Regions from separate parts of the Homo sapiens genome. Here region 1 is linked to region 2. The links come from fine-mapping of genetic effects on gene expression. A gene starts in region 2. The other region holds a variant in brackets. All regions are shown on one strand. Distances are between the middles of the regions. Region 1 holds the start of RNASEH2C (ribonuclease H2 subunit C). Region 2 holds the start of CNIH2 (cornichon family AMPA receptor auxiliary protein 2).

Evidence for each region.
Region 1: its variant is fine-mapped to the expression of CNIH2 in whole blood (TOPMed, PIP above 0.99).

The regions. Positions count from the first base shown.
Region 1 is chr11:65,717,581-65,732,418 of GRCh38, forward strand. KAT5 (lysine acetyltransferase 5) reads left to right here. Exons shown (of 13, transcript NM_182710.3): 11 at 1,010-1,169; 12 at 1,293-1,374; 13 at 1,467-2,024. The coding sequence ends at 1,601. It overlaps RNASEH2C (ribonuclease H2 subunit C), which reads right to left and starts at 3,218. Exons shown (of 4, transcript NM_032193.4): 1 at 3,007-3,218; 2 at 2,662-2,837; 3 at 2,465-2,584; 4 at 93-2,229. The coding sequence starts at 3,178. The coding sequence ends at 2,203. It also overlaps the pseudogene KRT8P26. RefSeq lists a silencer at 2,904-3,143 and an enhancer at 3,294-3,363. The variant G/A (reference allele first, on the strand shown) is at 4,067.
Region 2 is chr11:66,275,146-66,284,222 of GRCh38, forward strand. CNIH2 (cornichon family AMPA receptor auxiliary protein 2) reads left to right here and starts at 3,030. Exons shown (of 6, transcript NM_182553.3): 1 at 3,030-3,392; 2 at 7,114-7,182; 3 at 7,588-7,635; 4 at 7,890-8,002; 5 at 8,103-8,246; 6 at 8,425-9,061. The coding sequence starts at 3,312. The coding sequence ends at 8,452. It overlaps RAB1B (RAB1B, member RAS oncogene family), which reads left to right. Exons shown (of 6, transcript NM_030981.3): 5 at 659-790; 6 at 899-2,347. The coding sequence ends at 1,093. It overlaps LOC107984340 (a long non-coding RNA gene), which reads right to left and starts at 3,380. Exons shown (of 2, transcript XR_001748274.1): 1 at 3,350-3,380. RefSeq lists a silencer at 2,806-3,135 and an enhancer at 7,301-7,804.

The sequences.
Region 1 (14,838 bases), 550 kb before region 2:
TCACTTGGAATAACCAAGCTCTGACCTGAGAAACAAGGAGGAAGTTCTAGCTGTTGACCTGGTGAAGACACAGAGGCTTTACCTGATCAAGGTTATGGTCCATTCGAGAAATTTTATTGGTTAAATGATGCCCAGATGGGGTCACATCCTCAGAACTTCTCAGCCTGGTAGCACAAGTGGATGCTTGAAGAAACTCAGTCTTGGAACTCAGACAGCAATGGAGACGGGATGTGAGTGGGACCAGCAAGGGGCTAAGGTCCATTATGAGGGTGAGGAAGGGCTTCTAGAAGTAACAAACATCCCAGGTCCCTGACTGGGGAGAATGAAGACACTGACCAAGAGATGTGAAGCCACTCAGGGCTGTGCAGGGTCTGAGGATCTCACTGGGGACGGCCTCCCAGCGGCCAGCTATCAGCACGAGTTGGAGGGAAAGAGCCATGGTGGGGGTCAGTCACGTGGCTCCCAGGAATGGTCTCCCCGACTTAGGAAGCACCTTGGTGCACCTTTTCTCCTTGCATCCTCACAACCACCCAGTCAGGCCACTCAAGTCTTACAGCAGGTGACACTCCCAAGGTCCCAGCTAGGAGGACTTTGAGAATTCAAGCATTCTCAGGTCTGGATTAGAGACAGGAATCTGTCTCCACTTCCTTACATGGCTAGACACAGAGCCCGGGATGGCAAAGGAAAATTGGAGGCCCCTTCTTCCCATGAGCCATTTTCTCTGCATCCCCTGCCCATAAGCCTTCACTGGCCTCTGATCACCCTCATGGTTGACTGCAGCTGCTCCTCTCAGTGCCCTCATGCCCTCCACTGTGCTCAGCGCACGGAAAGAGTGAATACTCAGTTCTTCCTGAGGGAACTGAGGCACAGAGAAGTGGAGGGCATAGAACTGCCAAGTGGCAGGGCCATGATAGGAACTAGGCAGCCTGCCTTGGCAACCTGTGTTTTTAAATGTTGCTTATGTTCATCTGTGACCTCTTACTCACCCTCTCCTGCTCCATTGCTTTAGGCTATGAACTCTCCAAAGTGGAAGGGAAAACAGGGACCCCTGAGAAGCCCCTCTCAGACCTTGGCCTCCTATCCTATCGAAGCTACTGGTCCCAGACCATCCTGGAGATCCTGATGGGGCTGAAGTCGGAGAGCGGGGAGAGGCCACAGATCACCATCAAGTGAGCCTGGCGCTGTCTACCTGGGGGTACATGGCATGGCTTGTCTGTTCCTGGGCTTTCTCTCTCAGGGCTCCTGGGGACAGATAAAGGTCCTCAGGGAACCTGACCTGTGCTCTCCCACAGTGAGATTAGTGAAATCACCAGCATCAAGAAGGAGGATGTCATCTCCACTCTGCAGTACCTCAATCTCATCAACTACTACAAGGTAGGGAGGCAGGCAGGGGAGACAGGTGTGTGGGATGCAGAGTGCAGTCCTCTGTGGGCTGACCACCTGCTGAACCCATCTCCTCTGCCCAGGGCCAGTACATCCTCACACTGTCAGAGGACATCGTGGATGGCCATGAGCGGGCCATGCTCAAGCGGCTCCTGCGGATCGACTCCAAGTGTCTGCACTTCACTCCCAAGGACTGGAGCAAGAGGGGGAAGTGGTGACCAGACACTGCCCACTGCAGTGCCAAGACGGCAGCAGGACTGGGGCTGATAGCCCACCCCGCCCCCACTGCAGCTCCCACAAAGCACTCTAAGGGAGATGGGGCTGAGGACAGCTCAAAAAGGAGAGGACAGGCCTGGCAGGGGCCCACTGGTGCCCAGCACCAAGGCGAGCTCCGGGCTCAGACCAACTCCAAGGTCAGCTGGCCACAGGCCCAGGCCTCCTCTGAAGCAGGGACCAGAGGGAGCCAGGCAGCTGTGTACAGTGAGAAGGGATCCGGATGGGGGAGCTCTGTACAGAGGGCTGGTGATTGTAAAAATTTCTTTTGTAAAGTAGAAGTTGGGGGTGGGGTGGGTGCTGGCTGCAAAAATTTCTGGCTTCTCTTACCCCTATTGCCCCCGGCAATAAATTGTTTCTATATGCCAGAGCCATGCAAAGTTCTTGGTGGGGAGGGGGAAAGGGCCCATGCTGGCTTAGGGGCTCTAAGGCGCCCAGACTCACAGGTGCTGTGAAGAGCTCCTTTATTGGGGTGATGGAATCGGTTCCAAAGAGCTGGTTTACTGCTGTGAAGGGATCGCAGCTTTGAATTTCAAGCTCTGGTTCTCAGTCCTCGGGCACCTGTGCGTGAATCTGCAACAGGAGTCGCCTCTACTGTTGGACTTGTAAGACAGGGCGGCAAGCTGGCCCCCATACCCGAGGAAGGACCCAGCTGTTCAGAATAACCGCTTCTAGACATGCTAGGAAGAGTGGTCAGGGAGCTACGCTTCCCACACACTACCCAGTAGAATCCTCCAGGCTCCGTCTGCGCAATTGTGCTCCCCAGCCCATCCACCCGGGGGCAAGACGGAACTCCTCGTCTACTCACCGCTGCCGCAAGGCTGGGCCAAGTTAAGGCCCCACGCACTTTGGCATCCGGGCCAGGGATGGTCTCCAGACCCCACAGGGTGAAGCGGCTGAAGTTGGCAGTGGCTCCAATGAAGCGGTCCTGGGGAAGGGGCCTGGCTCAGCATCGGGACTACAGCTCCCGCCCGCACCCCCTTTCAACCCTATCCCTTTGCTCACGAAGTCCCGCTCCAGCGGCTCCTCCTCTTGGTCGTCAGTCCCGGAATCCCGCAAGGGGTCTGGCTTCCCCATCGACACCTTCTTCTCTTCTGTCACCATCACGTATCCCACGAGGCCAGGCGGCACCGCCACCTCCTCTCCCCGTAGACAGCGGCCCCGAAACGACACTTCGAGTCCTGGAGCGGGAGGCGCAAAGGGCCTCAGGCAGGACCCACGCTGGGTCGAGCCCGGAGCTGCCCTCCCGCCACCTCCGGACGGACCACGATCCCCAGGAGCCCAGGCGATGAGAAGCGCGCAGGCCGGCGCGGGGGCTGCCGGGAGCCGTAGTCCGGCCGCAGGGCTCACCCTCGGGGCCCTGGCGGATGGCGGGCGTGAAGAAGCGCCCCACCGGGGCGGGCCCGTCCACCGCAACCTCGCAGGGCAGCAGATGCAGTGTGGCGGGTACGGCGTCGCGCAATGTGGCGGAGCGCAAGTGGACGCGGTGCCTCTCGATGGCCGCTTCGTCGCCGCTCTCCATCCTCCCTCCTACGCGACGCCAGGGCTCGCGAGCTGACACTGAAGCTGGCGCGGAAAGCGCGCAGGACCTCTCAGGAAGCCTCCGCGGGGCCTCACGGGAAGCCGCCGCGGAGCTTCACGGGAAGTGTAGTCCCCTTACCCCCTAACGCTTTCCCTGGGTTCAAGTCCTAGGGTTTTCCAGTTGTGTTTTGTTTTTTTCCTTCCTTCCTTCCCCCCTCCCCTCTTTCCTCCCTCCCCTCTCCCCCTCTCCTTCCCCCTCCCCCCTCCTTCCCCCTCCCCCCTCCCCCTCCTCCCTGCCTCCCTTCCTTCCCCCCTTCCCTTCCCTTCCTTCCCGTCCTTCCCTCTTTCTTTCTTTTTCTTATTTATTATTATTTTTTTTTGACAGAGTCTCGTTTTGTCGCCCAGGCTGGAGTGCCAGGCACGGTCTCAGCTCACTGCAACCTCCGCCTCCCGGGTTCAAGCGATTCTCCTGCCTCAGCCTCCGGAGTAGCTGGGATTACAGGCGCACACCACCATGCCCACCTAATTTTTGTATTTTTAGTAGAGACTGGGTTTCGCCATGTTGGCCAGGCTGGTCTCGAACTCCTGACCTCAGGCGATCCTCCAGCCTCGGCCTTCTGAAGTACTTGGATTACAGGCGTGAGACACCGCCCCCAGCCGGGTTTTTTTCTTTTATTGTTTTTAATGGCACATGTCGTTGTAAAAATCTAAAACGATTCTGAAAAGTACTCTTTTTATATTGATTAGTAGGTAGGTTATTCATTTTTAGTTTATTAGGGACATCAACCCTTTTCTTAAATGCATTGAAAATGTTTTATCTGTGGTCTGTCTTGCAAACCTGTGTAAAGGTGATTTTTGCTGGACAAGGACTTATTTTTGTGGTTGTTTG[G/A]TCTTTTAGACAAGGTCTCACTCGCCTAGGCTGGAGTGCAGTGGTTTGATTGGCTCACTGCAGCCTCGACCTCCCAGGCTTAATCCATCCCCCATCCTCAGCTTCCTGTGTAGCTGGAACCACAGGCCTGCGCCACCACGCAGCTAATTTTTGTATTTTTGGTAGAGGTGGAGTTTTGCCATGTTGCCCAGGCTGGTCTTGAACTCCTGGACTCAAGTGATCTGCCCACCTTGGCCTCCCAAATCACGCTGGAATTACAGGCGTGAGCCACTGCACCCAGGACAAAGACTAATTTTTTGTAGTCAAATTTATCAACACTTTTCAGTCTTTTAGATTTCACAATTTTCTCTCTTTGGTTTCTCAGCTCTTCTCTAATGTTTATTTGTTCAGACACCCAACTTAGATATATTTTTTCAAGTTCTCACATAAAACAAACACAAAACTGGAAATTTAGATTTAAATTGCGTTTAATTTATACATCCCTGCACATCTGGGAGCTGGCCTTGGTATTCTGTTGAATATAAACAATTTCAGAGAACATCAGCATCGGACAAGGTCACTCTGTGACCGTGAGGGAGCAAGACAGAAACAGAACCACTCCATCGTCACATCTGAATGCTGGCAAAGGTGAACACTGTCCAAACCACAAAAGGCATGAAACATCCCTCTTTCTCCCATAAGAGAGTGACTGTTGTTTCCTTACCAATTACAGCATTAGCCTCCAACTAATCTTCTCTCCTTCTGGGCAAGACTCATTAAGATAGTCCGTCATAGACATACCCCCACCTCTGACAGCATCCAAGCCAGAGAGAAGCCTGGCTTCCCTAAACCCTGACTGAAATCACTGAACATGGGCACAAATCCTCCTATAAGTCCTTTCTAGCACCCTCTTATTGAAATTCCCCAGAGTGCAGGAGTAATATACCCAATTTGTTCAACTGCAGATGTATTCCTGGTGCTCTTTCACTAGAGTGGCAGATTAATTTAGAAAAAGGCTTGCTTTAGTTTTCTATCAGGAAAGACATAATTCAATTTATTCACATCTCCTTGGATATCTGTACAGTTGTGAGGTTTTGTTCATATATAATAGCTATTAATACATATTGTAAAGTTTATTTCTTCTTAGCTTATATTAATAATTGTTTCTATTAAGAACTGAGGGGCTGGGCATGATGATTCACACCTGTAATTCCAGTGCTTTAGGAGGCCAAGATGGGGGAGGATTGCTTGAAGCCAGGAGTTTGAGACCGGCCTGGGAAACATAGCAAGACTCCGTTCCTACAAAGAAAAAAATTTTTTTAAACATGAGTGGGGCACAGTGGCATGTGCCTGTAGTCCCAGCTACTCAAGAAGCTAAGGTGGGAAGATCACTTAAGCCAAGGAGTTTGAGGCTGCCGTTCGAGTCACGATTGCACCACTGCACACCAGCCTGGGTTACGGAGGGAGACCCTTTCTCTAAAAACCAAAATTGGGGCTTTTATTTTTTTCATTTTATTTTCTAACTGATTTTCTTTTTAATCTATAGCAGGGGTTGGCAAACTTTTTCTGTAAGGGGTCAAATAGTAAATATTTTAGGTTTTGTGGACTTTATGGCTTCTGTCGCAGCTACTCAACTTCACCGTTATAGCATGAAAGCAGTCATAGACAATACATAAATGAATGAGCGTTGTTGTGTTCCAGTAAATCTTTGCAGAAACAGACAAGGGGTTGGATTTGAACCACAGGCCATAGTTTTCAGACCCCTTGTCTATAGCAAACCTGTTGATTTTTATATGTCCATTTTTAAACTAGATATCGACTGAATTATTTTGTTCCTAATGATTTTTATTTTATTTTAAGATCCCCAGAATTAGTCACCTCTCTTTCAAATAATAATTTTTACCTCACCATTACATCTTCTTTTTGTTTTTTGTTTTTTGTTTTTTTTTTTTCATTACACCTTGTAATTTGTTTTCTTTTCTAATTGCCTTGGCCAGTACTTGCAGAACAGTCTCTCAAATGTTACTGGTATCAGAGGACAACATTGTCTTTTTCCTGAAACTTTCACGGGAGTGCTTCTGCTGTTTCACCAATAATCATGAAACTGCCTTTTGACTTGTTATATATGTCTCATTAAAGCTGTACTACTAAGAGCTTTTAAAAATTGGGAGTAGATGTTGGATCTTATTTTTTATTTTTATGTTTTTGGTTTTGCAAGTTTCCTGTAGTCTGGATATTAGTAATTGCATTCCTATAGTGTCAAGGTAATCTATACCTGTATTTTCTGTAATTACATCTAGAAGCTTAATTCGATTCTTTGGGGAGGGGAGAGGGCAAGACTACTTCATGGGTGGTTTTGTGTTTTTCCCTCTTTTTGTGAGGTTAGCAGCCATAGATGATCATTGCCTAGATCCTTTAATTCATTAGAGGTTAAAACGCGTGTGTACGCGCACACACACACACACACACACATATTTTTGGGACAGAGTCTCACCTGGTAGCCCAGGCTGGAGCGCGGTGGCGCGATCTTGGCTCACTCAGCTCAACCTCTGTCTCCCGGGTTCAAGCAATTCTCCTGCCTTGGCCTCCTGAGTAGCTGGGATTACAGGCGCATGCCACCATGCCAGGCTAATTTTTGTATTTTTAGTAGAGATGGGGTTTTACCATGTTGGCCAGGCTGGTCTCCAAATCCTTACCTCAAGTGATCTGCTCCCCTCCCTTGGGCTCCCAAAGTGCTGGGATCACAGGCGTGAGGCATGGTGCCCAGCCTAAAACTGATATTCTAAGTCCTCTCATTTCTTCTTCATTTACTAGCTGAAATAGGTCTATAAAGAAAAACTCTCCCCATCAGCCATTTGATTGCCTGTTGGTACAGTGAGGATAAGAAAGACAAAATAATTAGGCCGGGCACAGTGGCTCACACCTGTAATCCCAGCACTTTGGGAAGCTGAGGTGGGTGGATCACTTGAGGTCAGGAGTTCGGGACCAGCCTGGCCAACACGGTGAAACCTTATCTCTACTAAAAAATACAAAAATTAGCCGGGCGTGGTGGCGCATGCCTGTAATCCCAGCTACTCAGGAGGCTGAGGCAGGAGAACTGCTTGAACCCGGGAGGTGGAGGTTGCAGTGAACTGAGATCGAGCCACTGCACTCCAGCCTGGGTGACAGAGCGAGACTGCATCTCAAAAAAATCCTTTTATTTTCCAGTTCTTAAAATAATGATTTGTTGCCCTAGCATATTCCAATGGTGACCTTTTAAAAATGTTAAATAAATATTAAATAAATAAATATAAATAAAAATAATAAATAATGGATTAACACTTTTATGTTTCACATAATTGTGGTTATTATTCTTACTGAGGTGCAAATTTCCCCATCTTCTGCCAGTGGAAGCCTCTTCAAGTTATCTCCTGAATCTTTCGATATGACCCTAGTGATCTTTTATACATATCTTTGTTTTCCAGTACCACAAGATGTTCCTGGCTCATCTTGTACATTTCCTGCCCCAGACTTGGAATTATACATCTCTCCAAAGATCGCTGGTTCCCTTCAGTGGGAAATGATATTTAGTAATCCAATCTGATACTAGATGTATTCATTGCTACTGAGTTAGCCTTTGTTTCTAGATATTTCCAGTGGACAAAGCTAGGAAATACGCATTTTTTTCCTCTCCTTTTTTTTTTTTTTTTTTTTGAGACAGAGTCCGCTCTGTCAGCCAGGCTGGAGTGCAGTGGCACAATCTCGGCTCACTGCAACCTCCGTCTCCTGGGCTCAAGCAATTCTCCTGATTCTCCTGCCTCAGCCTCCCGAGTAGCTGGGATTACAGGCGCCCACCACCATGCCCGGCTGATTTTTTTATATTTATTTATTTATTTTTGAGACGCAGTCTCACTCTGTCAGCCAGGTTGGAGTGCAATGGTGAGATCTCGGCTCACTGCAACCTCTGCCTCCCAGGTTCAAGCAATTCTCCTGCCTCAGCCTCCCGAGTAGCTGGGACTACAGGCGCCCGCCACCACGCCCGGCTAATTCTTTGTGTGTTTAGTAGAGACGGGGTTTCACCGTGTTCGCCAGGATGGTCTCGATCTCCTGACCTCGTGATCCGCCCGCCTTGGCCTCCCAAAGTGCTGGGATTACAGGCGTGAGCCACCGCGCCCGGCCAGGAGGCTTAGTCTTAATAAAAACTTGGAAAGAAAGATTCCCCTGAGGATCAATTACAACCGAAATGACAGAGCCCCTATCAGGTGTTGTTGAGTATCCCCTCTGCTGCTAAACTTCAGGGAATAACTTGTTGGGTACACCTGTCTAGGATTAAACCTGTTTCTTATGAGTCACAGGCACAAAAGCAGGATACCACGACCTACATCTGTGAACCTTTGGAGGACCTCTGCTACCTATTTAAAAGAATCAATATTCAGCCATAAGTGGTAACGTGACGCCGTGGGTGGGAACATTTTTCTCTTCTTCCTGATTGTAATACTTCTTTTCTGTCGCTTTGGGCAACTACCTCCTCCCAGGAAACATCTCTTGTCCTTGTTGGGTGTAGAGGCCACTCTAAGGCCCAGGTGGATACCATGTGCCACTGTTAATCCTGTTGCTCTCCCAATTAACCTAATCCTGTGTAAGTGGGAACAAAACTTTATAGTAAATATTTCAAAAATTATAGCTTTAGGAAATCATCTTCATGGTTGCTGGATTTGTCATCAACATCCCCAGGATAGAGAATTTCACCTTCTGGCCGATCCAAAAACTCTCTTGGCTAACTCCCTAGCCCTCTTCACCATCCATAGCAATCTCAAAGTACCCAGACCCCGACCATTAGGTGGAAATTTCTGTCGTGCACTTGATGGATTCTACCTGAAATCCCCCACCACTATTGCCTGGACCTGGGAAGGCGTATGTCTAGATCTCCAGGGCACTCATGATTCTATCAAGGCATGTATCTAGATCTCTAGGGCACTCATGATTCTGTCAAGGCGTGTATCTAGATCTCCAGGGCACTAATGATTCTATCTTTTGCAACCACTGTTGTGTTAATGACACAAAAGTGGAAGTTTCCCCACAATGCTGTGACCCAACTGTAGTTGCCAAGTTCCCAAGGCCACAGCAAGATAAATAAGATTCCACTTGTGAGCAAGGAGACCATATACAGTGCCTTCTCCCAGAGCAGAACATACAGAGAAAAAAACAACTGCCTAATCTGGGAAGGTGAGATTACCGCCCCCTTCTGGAAAACAAGGGCTGACCTAGAGGAAGCTTCTCCATCCTTGAATCTACATCTGGTTCGGCCTGCCTACCTCCACTCCTGCCTCCATCGTGTCCATCACGGTGACCCAGAAGCCCTACAAGGCATCCATCTCTGGCCCCTGGGCCTTCAGCAGCCGCTCCTACACCAGTGGTCCCGGTGCCCACATCAGCTCCTTGAGCTTCTCCCAAGTGGGCAGCAGCAGCAGCTTCTGGAGTGGCCTAGGCACCAGCATGAGTCTGGGTGGTGGCTATGGTGGGGCAGTGGTATGGGGTGGGGGTGGGCGACACAGCCATCATGGTGAACCAGAGTCTGCTGAGCCCCCTTAAGCTGGACCTGGACCCCAATATCCAGGCTGTGCATACCCAGGAGAAGGAGCAGATCAAGACCCTCAACAAGTTTGCCTCCTTCATCGACAAGGTGCAGTTCCTGGAGCAGCAGAACAAATGCTGGAGACTAAGTGGAGCATCCTGCAGCAGCAGAAGACAGCTGGGAGCAACATGGACAGCGTGTTTGAGAGCCACATCCACAGCCTTGGGCAGCAGCTGGACACTGGGCCAGGAGAAGCTGAAGGTGGAGGCAGATCTTGGCAACACGCAGGGGCTGCTGGAAGACTTCAACGATAAGTACCAGGATGAGATCAACGAGCGGACAGAGATGGGGAATGAATTTGCCTTCATCGAGAAGGATGTGGATGGAGCTTACATGAACAAGGCAGTGCTGGAGTCTCACCTGGAAGGGCTGACTGACAAGATCAACTTCCCCAGAGAGCTGTGTGAAGAGGAGATCTGGAAGCTGCAGTCCCAGATCTCGGACACGTCTGTGTGCTGTCCATGGACAACAGCCACTCCCTGGACGTGGATGGCATCATCGCGGAGGTCAACGCCCAGTACGAGGAGATCGCCCACTGCGGCCAGGCAAGGCTAAGAGTCTGCACCAGGTCAAGGATGAGGAGTTGCAGACACTGGCTGGGAAGCACGGGGATGACCTGCGTCGCGGGAAGATGGAGAACTCTGAGATGATCCGCAACATCAGCGGGGTCCATGCTGAGATTGAGGGCCTCAGAGGCCATCGCGGATGCTGAGCAGCGTGGGGAGCTGGTGGAGCTGGAGGCTGCCCTGTAGCAGGCCAAGCAGGACCTGGCGCCGGCCAAGCAGGACCTGGCGCCGCAGCTGCTTAAGTAGACAGCTGAGCTCGGCCTCCCGGGGCCTCACAAGCCCTGGCCTCAGCTACGGCCTGGGCCCCAGCCTTGACTCTGGCAGGGATTTCAGCTCCTTCAGCCGCACCAGCTCCTCCAGGACCATGGTTGGGAAGCTGGTGTCCGAGTCCTCTGATGTCCTGCCCAAGCGAACAACTATGGCAGTCCCTCCCAGCCTACCCCCTCTTGCAGCTGCCCCAGAGCTTGTGGGGGAGGCTGCTGTGCAGGAAAGCGCAGGGAACAGGAGACCCACTTGAGGCTCAGCCCTCCTCCACAGCCCACTTGTGTGGGGTAACTCCCTTGCCCATGCCTCCATCACAAAACAATTCCACTGTTTTGTTTTGTTTTGTTTTGTTTTTTCAAGATAAAGCCTCAGCTAGCTCTGTCAACTGTCAAAAAGCAAAAAACAAACAAAACCCAGAAAACCCTACCAGGGTTGTTTGGTCCTCCCCGTTGGAATGGGGGGAGATATCTTGTATCTCCACAGACCCAACTTAGTGGCTAAAGATAGGCATCACACCTCACAGGGCCTCTATTGCACCCCAAATGGGTTCGTTTTCATTTGTGGTCATAAGTGGGAAGAAGTCACATCCCATAACCACTCCTAACTCCCCAGAGGACCTCCTGTTCTTTTAGGAGTAGCTTTCCTTTGTATATCAAAAACTTGGAACAGGGGTGAGTGTATGTTGGCCACCCTTTGGCCTTCCGGGGGTCACCATATAAAACCCTGTAAGACCGAGGAATACCAGAAATGAATGATCAATAGGATTAATTCTGACATGAACTGGAGTGGCATTAGAACTAGTGGCCCCCTGGGGTGGCTTTGCCTACCATGAGTTGGCCCTAAAGAACTGACTCAAACCCTGGAATCATTAGCCACCAACACAGGTCAGGCATTAAAAGGAATTCAGGGATTCCTAGACTCTTTGGCAAATGTAGTTCTTGATAAGAGACTAGCATTGGATTATTTACTAGCTGAACAAGGTGGAGGCTGTGCAGTTATGAATAAAACCTGGACAGGTTGAGATTAACATTCACACGATCTATCAGCAATCTATCTGGTCACATAGATGCTGGGTCACTGACTCCAGCTATATCTGCTCGATTATCAAAAATGCCCTCCCGGCCGGGCACAGTGGCTCATGTCTGTAATCCCAGCACTTGGGAGGCCGAGGCAAGTGAATTGCCTGAAGTCAGGAGTTCGAGACCAGCCTGGCCAACATGGTGAATCCCTGTGTCTACTAAAAATACAAAAATTAGACGTACGTGGTGGCGGGCGCCTGTAATCCCAGCTACTTGGGAGGCTGAGGCAGGAGAATTGCTTGAACCCGGGAGGCAGAGGTTGCAATGAGCTGAGATCGCGCCATTGAACTCCAGCCTGGGCAACAAGAGCAAGACTTCATCTCAAAAAAAAAAAAAAAAAACCCCTCCCAAGTCTCACTTGGTTCTTACCTCTCCTAGGACCTTTGATAGCTGTCTTGTTATTACTAATCTTTGGCCCTTGCTTTTTTAACCTCTTTTTTTTTTGAGATGGAGTTTTGCTCTTTGTTGCCCAGGCTAGAGTGCAATGGCACGATCTCAGCTCACTGCAACCTCCCCCTCCTGGGTTCAAACGATTCTCCTGCCTCAGCCTCCTGAGTAGCTGGGATTACAGGTGTGAGCCACCACACCTGGCTAATTTTTGAATTATTAGTAGAGATGGGGTTTCACCATGTTGTTTCACCATGGGCTGGTCTCGAACTCCTGACCTCAGGTGATCTGCCCACCTCGGCCTCCCAAAGTGCTGGAATTATAGGCATGAGCCACCACTCCCGGCCTGCTTGTTTAACCTCTTAATAAAGTTTGTGTCTTCTAGGTTACAACAGTTCCAGGTAAAGACAATGCTGGCACAAGGTTTCTAACCCATCCATCTTCTGACCTAGAGAATGAAAGCATCCTGCCTTTGGGCCGCCTTGGGTCAGGTATCTGGAGATTTTTACTCCTCTAGTGCTATGCAGGGCCTATTCCCATGAACTCAGCAGGGAGCAGTTACAGAACATGGACCTCCACCCTTTTGCAACCCCTTTCAGATTAAGGAGGAGTATCTGATCTCTGAGGGGAGAATGAGGTAGGAGGCAGGTGGGACTCGACTGTGGGCCAGGTTGAAGACTGGTTGAAACTGGGAAGAGTCTGTGTGTGGTGGCTCATGCCTGTAATGCCAGCACTTTGGGAGGCCGAGCCGGGTACATCACTTGAGGCCAGGAGTTCAAGACCAGCCTGGCCAATATGGTGAAACACCGTCTCTACTAAAAATATAAAAAATTATACAAAAATTAGCCAGGTGTGGTGGCGGGCGCCTGTAGTCCCAGATACTCAGGAGGCTGAGACAGGAGAATCACTTGAACCTGGGAGACGGAGGTTGCAGTGAGCTGAGATTTCATCACTGCACTCCAGCCTGGCTCCATTTCAAAAGAAAAGAAACTGGGAAGAGACACTGAAGGCACCTTTCCATAAGACATGCCCACTAACGCCATGACTGTTTACCATTGCCATGGCAACACCTGAAAGTTACTGCCCATTTTTGAGCTATTTTAAAATAACCGACCCCTTAATTAGCATACCATTAAGAGTGGGTATAAATATAACTGCAAAAGTGCCCCTAGGCTGCTACTCTCAGCACACTGCCTATGAGGTAGCCCTGCATGGCAGGAGCAGTCACGGAGCTGTGACGTTGCCACTGCTTCAATAAAGCTGTTTTCTTCTACCCCCGGCTTGCTCTTGAATTCCTTCCTGAGTGAAGCCAAGAATTTGCCCTGCCTCACCTTGAGATACCATAAACATTTTAGGATGGTTATTTAAGAAATGTCAGTGAAAAACATCATCATGACTTTGATAGGGATTGCATTGAATATGTAGATTGCTTTGGGTAGTATTCACATCTTAGCAATATTAACTCTTCCAATCCACAAACATGGGAAGTGTTTCCATTAATTTATGTCTTCTTTAATTTCTTTCAGCAATGTTTTGTAGTTTCTATTGTATAAGTCGTTTACCTGTTGGTTAATTCCTAAATATTTTATTTTATTTAATTATTTGATTTATTTTATTTTATTTTATTTTATTTTTTGAGATGGAGTTTCCCTCTTGTCGCCCAGGCTGGAGTGCAGTGGCACGATCTCGGCTCACTGCAACCTCCGCCTCCTGGGTTCAAGCGATTCTCCTGCCTCATTCTCCCGAGTAGCTGGGATCACAGGCGCCTGCCACCATGCCTGGCTAATTTTTGTATTTTTAGTAGAGACAGGGTTTTGCCATGTTGGCCAGGCTGGTCTTGAACTCCTGACCTCAGGTGATCCACCCGCCTCAGCCTCCCAAAGTGCTGGGATTACAGGCATAAGCTACCGCACCCGGCCAATATTTAATTCTTTTGAATGCATTGTAAATGGAATTGTTTTTAAATTTCCTTTTCAGATTGTTAGCACATAGAAATGCGACTTTTTATGTGTTTACGTTGTATGTGCTACTTTGTTGAAATCATTTATTAATTCTAACAGTTTTTTTTTTTTGATGTGTGGAACCTTTAGAATTTTCTACATAAAAGATCATATCAGGCCTGAGCCTGGTGGCTTATAACAGTAATCATAGCAAATTGGGAGGCTGGGGTGGGAGAATCACATGAGGCCAGGAGTTTAAGAATGCAGTGAGCCATGATTGTGCCACTGCACTCTAGCCTGGGTAATAGAGTAAGACCCCAACTAAAAAAAAAAGGATCAATGTAATCAGTGAACAGAGATGATTTTACTTCTTCCTTTCCAGTGTGGATGCCTTTTATTTCTTTTTCTTGCCTAATTGCTCTGGCTAGAATGTTCAGTGCTATGTTGAATGGAAATAGTGAAAGCAAGCATCCTTGCTTTGTTCCTGATATTAGAGGAAATGTTTTCAATGTTTCACCATTGAGTATGGTGTTCACTGTGGGTGTTTTATATATGGCTTTTTATTATGGTGAGGGTGTATACTTCTATTTCTAGTTTGTTGAGTGTTTATTTTTATCATGAAAAGGTGTTGAATTTTGTCAAATGCTTTTGCTGTTAGAAGGGGAAGGGTCTGTATACCGAAAACTATAAAACACTGATGAAAGAAATGGAAGGAGGCTGGGCACGGTGGCTCATGCCTGTAATCCCAACACTTTGCGAGGGCCAGGTGGGCGGATCACGAGGTCAGAAGTTCGAGACCAGCCTTTCTAATATGCTGAAACCCTGTCTCTACTAAAAATACAAAAAGTAGCCGGGCATGGTGGCGCATGCGTGTGGTCCTGGCTACTCAGGAGGCTGAGGCAGAAGAATCACTTGAACTCAGGAGGTGGAGGTTGCAGTGAGC
Region 2 (9,077 bases):
TGTGATATGACCAGGCTTCTGGCTCCTAAGGAGTATAAGTGGCCCTAGCTTGAGCACTTTCCTGAAAGTCCTGTCCTTTGTGTGTGGGGTAGGGGCGCAAGTGCTGGGAGAGTCTGAAGCCAAGTAATGAGGCTGTTGGTGCCAAAAGTAGGATGAATTTTAGGCTGTTCCCAGGATTCCTGTCTCCCCACAGGCCAGGGCCACCTCTGAGAGGACCCTCGAACTCCTGTGCTCCAAGGCTTCAAACCTTAAAGGGATTTTCAGGCCACGGTGGGAACTGTGGCTCTTGCGGACCCGTTACTCTCTGTTCCTATCTCCCGTCCGCTCTCTCTTTGCTTCTCACATGTGGTTAGGGCCTGCAAGTGTCTCAGGGAGAGAGACAGCTGCAGGGAGCAGAGCTGGCAGGCCCAAGTTGGGGCAGCTGTTGAGGTGTTGGGGCAGCTGGCAGGCTGCTGGGGCTGTTCTGGGTCTCGGATGGAAGAGGGCAGGGAGGAAGGTTCAGCCTGGAGCAGAGGGCTTCCTCTGCATCTCTGCATCGCTGAGCCCAGGACTTAAGGGGCCCGGAGCTGTACTGTTCCCCTCAGAGAAGGTCTTCTCCAGGCCTGGGGTAGGGGTGACAGTTGGGAGCAAAATAACTTTGGCCCCTGGCCCCCTTTAGGAATCCTACGCCAACGTGAAGCAGTGGCTGCAGGAGATTGACCGCTATGCCAGCGAGAACGTCAATAAGCTCCTGGTGGGCAACAAGAGCGACCTCACCACCAAGAAGGTGGTGGACAACACCACAGCCAAGGTAGCAGACGGGCCGGTCTGCCCGGGGTCGGGGCGCTGGGGCCTGCTGCCCCTCACCTGCTCTCCCCTCCTCTTCTCTCCCCTCCTCTTCTCTCCTCTCCCTTGTCAGGAGTTTGCAGACTCTCTGGGCATCCCCTTCTTGGAGACGAGCGCCAAGAATGCCACCAATGTCGAGCAGGCGTTCATGACCATGGCTGCTGAAATCAAAAAGCGGATGGGGCCTGGAGCAGCCTCTGGGGGCGAGCGGCCCAATCTCAAGATCGACAGCACCCCTGTAAAGCCGGCTGGCGGTGGCTGTTGCTAGGAGGGGCACATGGAGTGGGACAGGAGGGGGCACCTTCTCCAGATGATGTCCCTGGAGGGGGCAGGAGGTACCTCCCTCTCCCTCTCCTGGGGCATTTGAGTCTGTGGCTTTGGGGTGTCCTGGGCTCCCCATCTCCTTCTGGCCCATCTGCCTGCTGCCCTGAGCCCCGGTTCTGTCAGGGTCCCTAAGGGAGGACACTCAGGGCCTGTGGCCAGGCAGGGCGGAGGCCTGCTGTGCTGTTGCCTCTAGGTGACTTTCCAAGATGCCCCCCTACACACCTTTCTTTGGAACGAGGGCTCTTCTGTCGGTGTCCCTCCCACCCCCATGTATGCTGCACTGGGTTCTCTCCTTCTTCTTCCTGCTGTCCTGCCCAAGAACTGAGGGTCTCCCCGGCCTCTACTGCCCTGGCTGCAGTCAGTGCCCAGGGCGAGGAATGTGGCCAGGGGATCCAGGACCTGGGATCCAGGGCCCTGGGCTGGACCTCAGGACAGGCATGGAGGCCACAGGGGCCCAGCAGCCCACCCTTTCCTCTCCCCACTGCCTCCTCTCCCTTCCTACACTCCCAGCTCGAGCCGTCCAGCTGCGGTGGGATCTGAGTATATCTAGGGCGGGTGGGCGGGTAGCAGTGCTGGGCCTGTGTCTTGAGCCTGGAGGGAGTCTGCTCCTGCCGCCCTCTGCCCTGCCAGAGACAGACCCATGCGCTGCCTGCCCACCGTGCCCCTTTGTCCCCATGTCAGGCGGAGGCGGAAGGCCCACCGTGCCAGAGGCTGGGCACCAGCCTTAACCCTCACTCTGCTAGCACCTCCTCCCTTTCCCCAAGGTAGCACATCTGGCTCACTCCCCACTCCGTCTCTGGAGCCCACCAGGGAAGGCCCTCATCCCCTGCCGCTACTTCTCTGGGGAATGTGGGTTCCATCCAGGATTGGGGGCCTCTCTGCTCACCCACTCTGCACCCAGGATCCTAGTCCCCTGCCCTCTGGCACAGCTGCTTCCTGCAAGAAAGCAAGTCTTTGGTCTCCCTGAGAAGCCATGTCCCTCGTGCTGTCTCTTGCCTGTCCCACCTGTGCCCTGCCCTCCAGCTTGTATTTAAGTCCCTGGGCTGCCCCCTTGGGGTGCCCCCCGCTCCCAGGTTCCCCTCTGGTGTCATGTCAGGCATTTTGCAAGGAAAAGCCACTTGGGGAAAGATGGAAAAGGACAAAAAAAATTAATAAATTTCCATTGGCCCTCGGGTGAGCTGAGGGTTTTTGCAAGGAAGTTGTGGTGGCCAAGTGTGGTCTGTGGTCTAAGCCCAGCCTTGGGGTGGGGGGATGGAACTGGAACCCTGGGCTTGGTGGGGTGCACGGGGGTCCTGGCTTGGTTTCTGTGTCCTAAGGCTGCTGGCAAAAGCCCTTGACCCCGTTTCCTGAGGCCAGGAAAGCTGCTTGTGCTTCTGTGGTCTGTCCCCAAGGGCCCAGCACCGTTCTGTCAGGGAAAGAGGCAGGCGGCCATCAGCTCATACCTGGCGTGCCGCCGCCAACTCCCGCGGGGCACACGGCAGAGGTGTGGGGTCGCGCAGCCGCTGAGAGGGCCCCCACTGCACCTGGCCCAACCTCCTTCAGCGCCCCCCAAAACCCCACTGCTCCCATTCAGCCCCTGTCCTGGCGTCATTGTGTGTCCCAGCCAGGTGCTTCTGCCGTCTCCGACAGTGACAAGTGCCTCGCACTTCAGCCTTTGCCCTGAGCGCCCGCCCGAGGGGGCCGAGTGCGGCTGTGCCGGTGGCTGGAGTGCCGAGGGGTGCGGGGTGCCGGGGGCGGCCGCGTCTACGCTGTCCGGAGGGTGAACGGCCGCGGGCTTGTCGGGGCTGGGGGTGGCGCCCGAGCCGGGCGGGCAGACGAGGGGCCCGCGGAGACCCAGCCCCGCCCGAGGCCGCTCGCGCGGCGGCCCCGCCCCCGGCTCCGCCCCGCCGGCTTCGCGGGCTGGAGAGCGAGGGAGCCGCGGGCGAGGGATCGCAGGATGAGCGATCGGGGCCCGGGCAGCCGGCAGCGGACGCGCCCCCCGAGCCCACCGGCCCGCGCCCCGCGCCCCCCACGGCCCCGCGGTCCCGGTCCCGGCCGCATCACCCACGTCCCCCGAGCCCCACGGGCCATGCCCGGCCGGCCCTAAGCGCGGGCCGGGGGGCGTCCCCTTGCGCCCGGGCCCCGCGCTGGCGCCCCCCGGGCCGCCGCCCGGCGCGGGGGCCATGGCGTTCACCTTCGCCGCGTTCTGCTACATGCTCACCCTGGTGCTGTGCGCCTCCCTCATCTTCTTTGTCATCTGGCACGTAAGGCCGGGCTGGGGCTGGGGCTGGGGGCGGGGTGGGGGGCAGGGGCCACGCGGAGCTGGAGGGACCCAGGGCGGGTGGTCTCAGAGCCCAGGGGAAACTTGCTATCCCCCAGCCGTCGGCTTGTCGGCTTCGCCCCCATTAACACCCCCCGTGGTCGGCTTTCTTCCCGGGGCCCCCCTTCCTCCGCCGCCCCCGCCTGTCTGTGTGTATGTCAGTCGGTCTCTGACCCCCTCCTCTGCCCTCGTCCTCTGCTCCCATGCAGCCCGTGAGGTGGGGGGTGGAATTCTGGCATTTTTGTTGCTTTATCTTCTATGTCCCCCCCCACCACCATCCAGCCGCCTCCATTAGTCCGTCGGGCAGTTTGTCTGTCTGCTGCCCCCCCCCCCCCGCCTTTGTGGGTTTTTCCAGCCAGAGTGATGGAGCTGGTTGCTATGGCAACTGCATCTGTTTACAGGACCCACAGATCTCAGAGTCCATTAACCCTTTGCCTTCCCAGCCCCCTCCCTGACCAAGCAGCAGTTGGCTCTCATCAGCCCCCAGAGACCTAGCCCCCACCACCGGCTCACCTTGGGTTTCCCTACCCCTCCTGTTGGGGGCTTCCCAGCCCCCCAGGTTTCCTCTCCATTTTCCAGCTTCCCTCCTCTTCCTGTCCCCCTTCCCCTTTGTCTCTCACATACCCCTTGGTCTGTCCCTCGCCCTGGCCTAGCCTCACACCTGGTTCTTCAAAATGTCCATTCCTCATCCTGCATCCGACCCATCGCTTCCCCCAGGCTCCCTCCTCCTCCCCTCCCGCTCCTCTCCTCCAGGGCCTCCTCTGCCTGGCTCCCGTCCCCTCACTACAGAACTATCAATCAGCCTCCAGCTGGTTGTTGGGGGCCCCTGGCCCCACTTTACTGCCCTCCGTCCCCACCCCCACCCAAACCCCGTGCCTGTTTCTGTAACAGCCTGCCCAGCTCGGCCCTGGCTGGCTCAGCTCAGCATCCTCTGCTCACACCTCCCGCGCACACCTCCCTGATTGTCATTCCCTTTCAGGGGTCCTCTTATCCCTCCCTCAATCCCATTTCCCATAGCCCTTCCCTCCTTCCTCCCGGTGCCTCACCTGCTTCTTTCCCGGGCTCTCCACTTCCTCTCTCCTTTCTCTTCCTGGGACCTGCCGCCTGCTCCATGGTTCCCCCTGCGCTCCCTTTGCCATCCCCTGCCACCTTGCTCTTTGACATCGGGAATCCATAGACTGAACCCCTACTGTGTGAAGAGTGAGCCCCCAAAGGCACCTCAGCACACACCCCAGCTCCAGCCCTGTCACTCCTTGGCCTGGCTCTGCTCTCTCTCTGGGTCTTGGTTGCTTTGTCTTTCCCCCTCTCCCCCGCACCCCGAGTTACTCTATTTTTCTTTCTGTGGGGTAGGGGCAGGAGGGCTAGGGTTCTAAGGACTGGAGGGAGCTGGGGGCCACAGGCTAGGGAATGCAGAGCTGACCAGCTCCTGGGAGAAGGGCTCCTGGAATTCAAGAAGCCTCTTTTTGGGGCCTTCCCCACCCAGGGCCTTCCCACAGCCCCTGTGGGGTCCCTGTCCTCAGGGGATCCTCAGCAGTTTATCCACCACGCCTGCATTGATGCTTCCCAAAGATCAGGCTCTGGGTGGCTTTGAGGGGGTCAAGGATGAATAAAACCCAGACTTTGCCCTTGTGGAGTGCCCAGGCTGGGAGGAAAGGCCCAAGCTTTGAAGAAATGTCTTTGTTCATTCAACAGATATTGATTGAGCACCTGTGTGAGGTACTCTGTCCACTCAGCCATTTAGCTGGACAATCTTAGCAAGTCATTTGTCCCAAGTCTGGTTCCTCGCCGGCAAAGTGGACCTGTGCACATCAGAGTGCCTAGTGCGGCCTGCTGGGTGGTAGGGGATAGGAGGCGTGGTCCTCAGTCCACAGCTGCTAAGAACTAGACTCTTAACAGGGCGGGACCCCAGATCCCACTCCAGACCCTCAGCCCAGGCCCCAGTGGTTCCTAGGCAACCCTGGCGGTGAGTGACGCGTGTCAGCTGTCACCATGGGGGATTGTTTGTTCCGGGGGGCTGAGTCAGCGCCAGGCAGCCTGGGGGGTGGGAGGGGTGACGCCCGCCGCCTGCTGGTGGTGCCAGCTCTGGGGTACAGACGGCACCCTTCTGCTCCCTGTGGACCCTGTTGCTGTGCGTGCCAAGTGGCGCTGCCCAGAGTCAATGGGGAGCTGGGCGGGGAGGGGGGATGATCCAGATGGCCTCAGCTCCCTCCAGGAAGCCCATGTTCTTTCTCTCTGAGCCGTCTGGGGCCTGGGATGCCTGGGGGTGGTGGGCCTGCTGCCTCATCCTAGGGCTGGAGCCGACAGGAGGGGACCCCAGCAGGCTCCTCTGCCAGCCCATTTCCCCCAAGTCACCTGTCAGCTCCTTCCCATCCCATCATCCCCTCAAACACTTGCTCCCCTGGAGAGTTTCCACCCGTGAGGACACTGCCGTCTGCCAGACACCCCAACACCTGAAGCCACCTTAGATTTCTGCCTTCACTTCTCAGCCATTTGAACCCTCTGGAGTCTGGCTCCTAAAGAGCTGTAGAATCCCATGCACGCCTTCCGTCTCCACTACAACTCTCCTCACTCAGACCACCATCAGCCCTGCCCCTAACCCTCCAAACCGTCCCCTTGCTGGTCTGGCCTGAGTATGACACAGTGGTTAGGAATTTTAACTCTGGAGTCACACTGGGTTAGAATCCACTAACCAGCCGTGTGGCCCTGGACAAGTCACTTAACCTGCCTCAGCTTCCTCATCTGCAAAACAGACATGAAAATAAAACTAGTACCTAAGTCATAAGGTTGTTAAGAATTAAATGAGTGAATCCACATACCGGCCAGGAGAAGCACCACTTAGATCTCAGCTGTGACTGTCAGTGAGCTCGGATTTCCTGCCCCACCAATCCTGAGACATGGACCAATCCTAAGACATGGACCTGACCACCCCACTCTGCTGCTGTGTACTCTTCAATGCCTCCCCCCAAAATTTTTGTGTTAAAGTAAGTCCAAACTCCTGCTCTGGCCTCACAGGGCGCCCATGTCTGGCTCTGCTGAATTCTCCAGCTCCTCTTCCACCACTCTCTCTTTTCTTCCTGCTCGCTGCGCTGTCACGCCAGCCCCATGAAACCCGCAGCCTCCTGAATGTCTCCTGACCTTTCACCCCTCTGCCATTGCACCTTCTACTGCTTGGACTGCATTTCCCCCATTTGCTCACCAACACCTACTCCGAGTCCAGCCTGAACTCCCTCACCCCCCACACAGGGTTAAGCGCCCACTCCAGGTCCTCCCTGTACCCCAAACCCTGATCACCTGGAAGGCAGAGTGATCATCCCTCTGGGCCTGGGTTCCTCCTGGGCAGGGGCTGCATCCCAGGCCTCTGGAGCCCCAGTGCTCAGCACAGGGCCTGAGACTTGGCAGGGCAGACACGAAGCCATGTCTTGGGATGTTTTGGAAGGGGGTGTAGTGGACATGGGCCTGAACTGGGCATCCAGACGCTAGGGTTCCCTTCTGGACTGTTGTAATGACCTTGGACCAGGCCCTGCTCCTCCCTGGACCTCGGTTTCTCCACCTTTGCAACAAGCTCCACCTGGCTGGTCCTCTTCAGTAAACTATCCCACAGAAGGACTTGGGGGAAGGCCATAAGCTGCTGCCCCAACCCTGACGGGCACACGCCCCTCCCCCAGATCATAGCCTTTGATGAGCTGCGGACCGACTTCAAGAACCCCATCGACCAGGGGAACCCTGCGCGGGCAGTAAGTGATACATGTGCTGTGCCGAGGTGTGTCCGTCCGTCTGTCTTTCCATCTGTCGTGGGCTGGGGGTGGGAGACGGGAAGACGGGGGTGGGGTGGGGGGCCTACGGCCATGCCCCCTTCCTCTCTGTCTCCGCCCCCAGCAAACACCTGGCGCGGGCTCAGGGCTGAGTTCCTCTTGGCGGGGCGGTGGTTGCCAGGCTCTGGGCCGTTGCCATGGAGACGCGGGTGAAGGCCCTTCCATGGTGACGGTCGCCATGGGGACGGCGCGGCTGCTTCCCGGCCGTGCCGACAGTGCCGCAGAGATCGCTCTGGCGCCCCCTGGCGGCCACATGTGGAGCGGTGGGAGCTGCTCCAGTACCTGCTTCTCCGCCACCCCATCGCGGCCTTTTCCTTCCCCCAACAGCGCGAGCGTTTAAAAAACATCGAACGCATCTGCTGCCTCCTGAGGAAGGTCAGTGTCAGGGCTGGGGGCAGGAGGCTCCTAGCCCAGCGCTGCCCCCACTGTCTGTGGCCCAGAACCAGGCCTTCCCCTGCTTTGGGCCTGTTTGATCCACTCTACTTGGGAGGGAGTGGGAAGCCAGAGGCCTTTTAATCCCCAGAGGTCACGGTGGGTGGGCACCTCCCAAACCCCAGCTCCTCTCTGTCCCCTTGAAGGCTGGTCTGTCATAGCACCAGGCCGCTGACCTCTCACCCTCACTCCCCCAGCTGGTGGTCCCAGAATACTCCATCCACGGCCTCTTCTGTCTGATGTTTCTGTGTGCAGCAGAGTGGGTGACCCTGGGCCTCAACATCCCCCTCCTCTTCTACCACCTCTGGAGGTGAGGGTAGCAGCTGCCTTGGGGAGGCTGAGATGGGGAACAGGGGCAGGATGGGGGTGGGAGTCCTGATGGCAGACACTCAGGCCCCTGTCTGCCCCAGGTACTTCCACCGTCCTGCAGATGGCTCTGAGGTCATGTATGATGCGGTCTCCATCATGAATGCTGACATTCTCAACTACTGCCAGAAGGAGTCCTGGTGCAAACTTGCCTTCTACCTGCTCTCCTTCTTCTATTACCTGTACAGGTGAGGCCTTGCCCACAGCAGTCAGAACTCAGGGAAGGGATGTCCCAGCATCACGCTTCCAATCCCAAGTTCCTGCCTTTTGCCCCTGAGGACTGAGGGCAGCCCAGGGTGTGACCAGGTGGGCATCTGGGTGGCTGTGTGTGTGCAGGGCTAGGCTCACTGGCTCATCTTCCTACAGTATGGTTTATACGTTGGTGAGTTTCTAAGGGGGAAGCCGGCCAGGGAGCGAGCCCAGAACGGACCGGACGCCTGTGCACCCCCAGCCCTGCCCCTTGGCCGCAGAGGCCTCAGCCCTGGGGAGGGAGGGGGCACTGGTGCCCCCAGCCTCTCCAACCCCCAAACTGCTGCTGCGGGGAACCCCCCCCACCCCGCCTTCAGAGCCCTCCCCCTTGGACTAGAGCGGCTGGGCAGAGCTCTAAACAGGGGCAGGGGCTCCTCTGCCAGCCTGTGGGCATGGCAGTCATTCCTGGAAGGGGCAGGACCTCCGGCCTTGTCCATTTCGGGGGAAACTTGGGCCCTGCCAAGGGGCAGAGCTTGACCCTGGAAATTCTGGGCCATCCCCCTCCACCCCCACCCTGAGGCTCCCCCTGCAGGTGGGGGGGTACCCGCACCGGGAATGAGCAGGCTCAGCAGGGGGGCAGCCCCACCCCTAGTCTGCCCTCCCCTCTCCCCCAGGCTCTTTCTCCAGCCCTGTCTCCATCTGCCCCAACCTCAGCCCACCTTGTCTCTTGGACCTATTTTCTATGTCGCCTGGAGGAGTCCGGCACCCCCTCCCCGGCCATTTGTGACAAAATATGAATAAACTACTGCAAATATGTGGGCCCCGGTTCT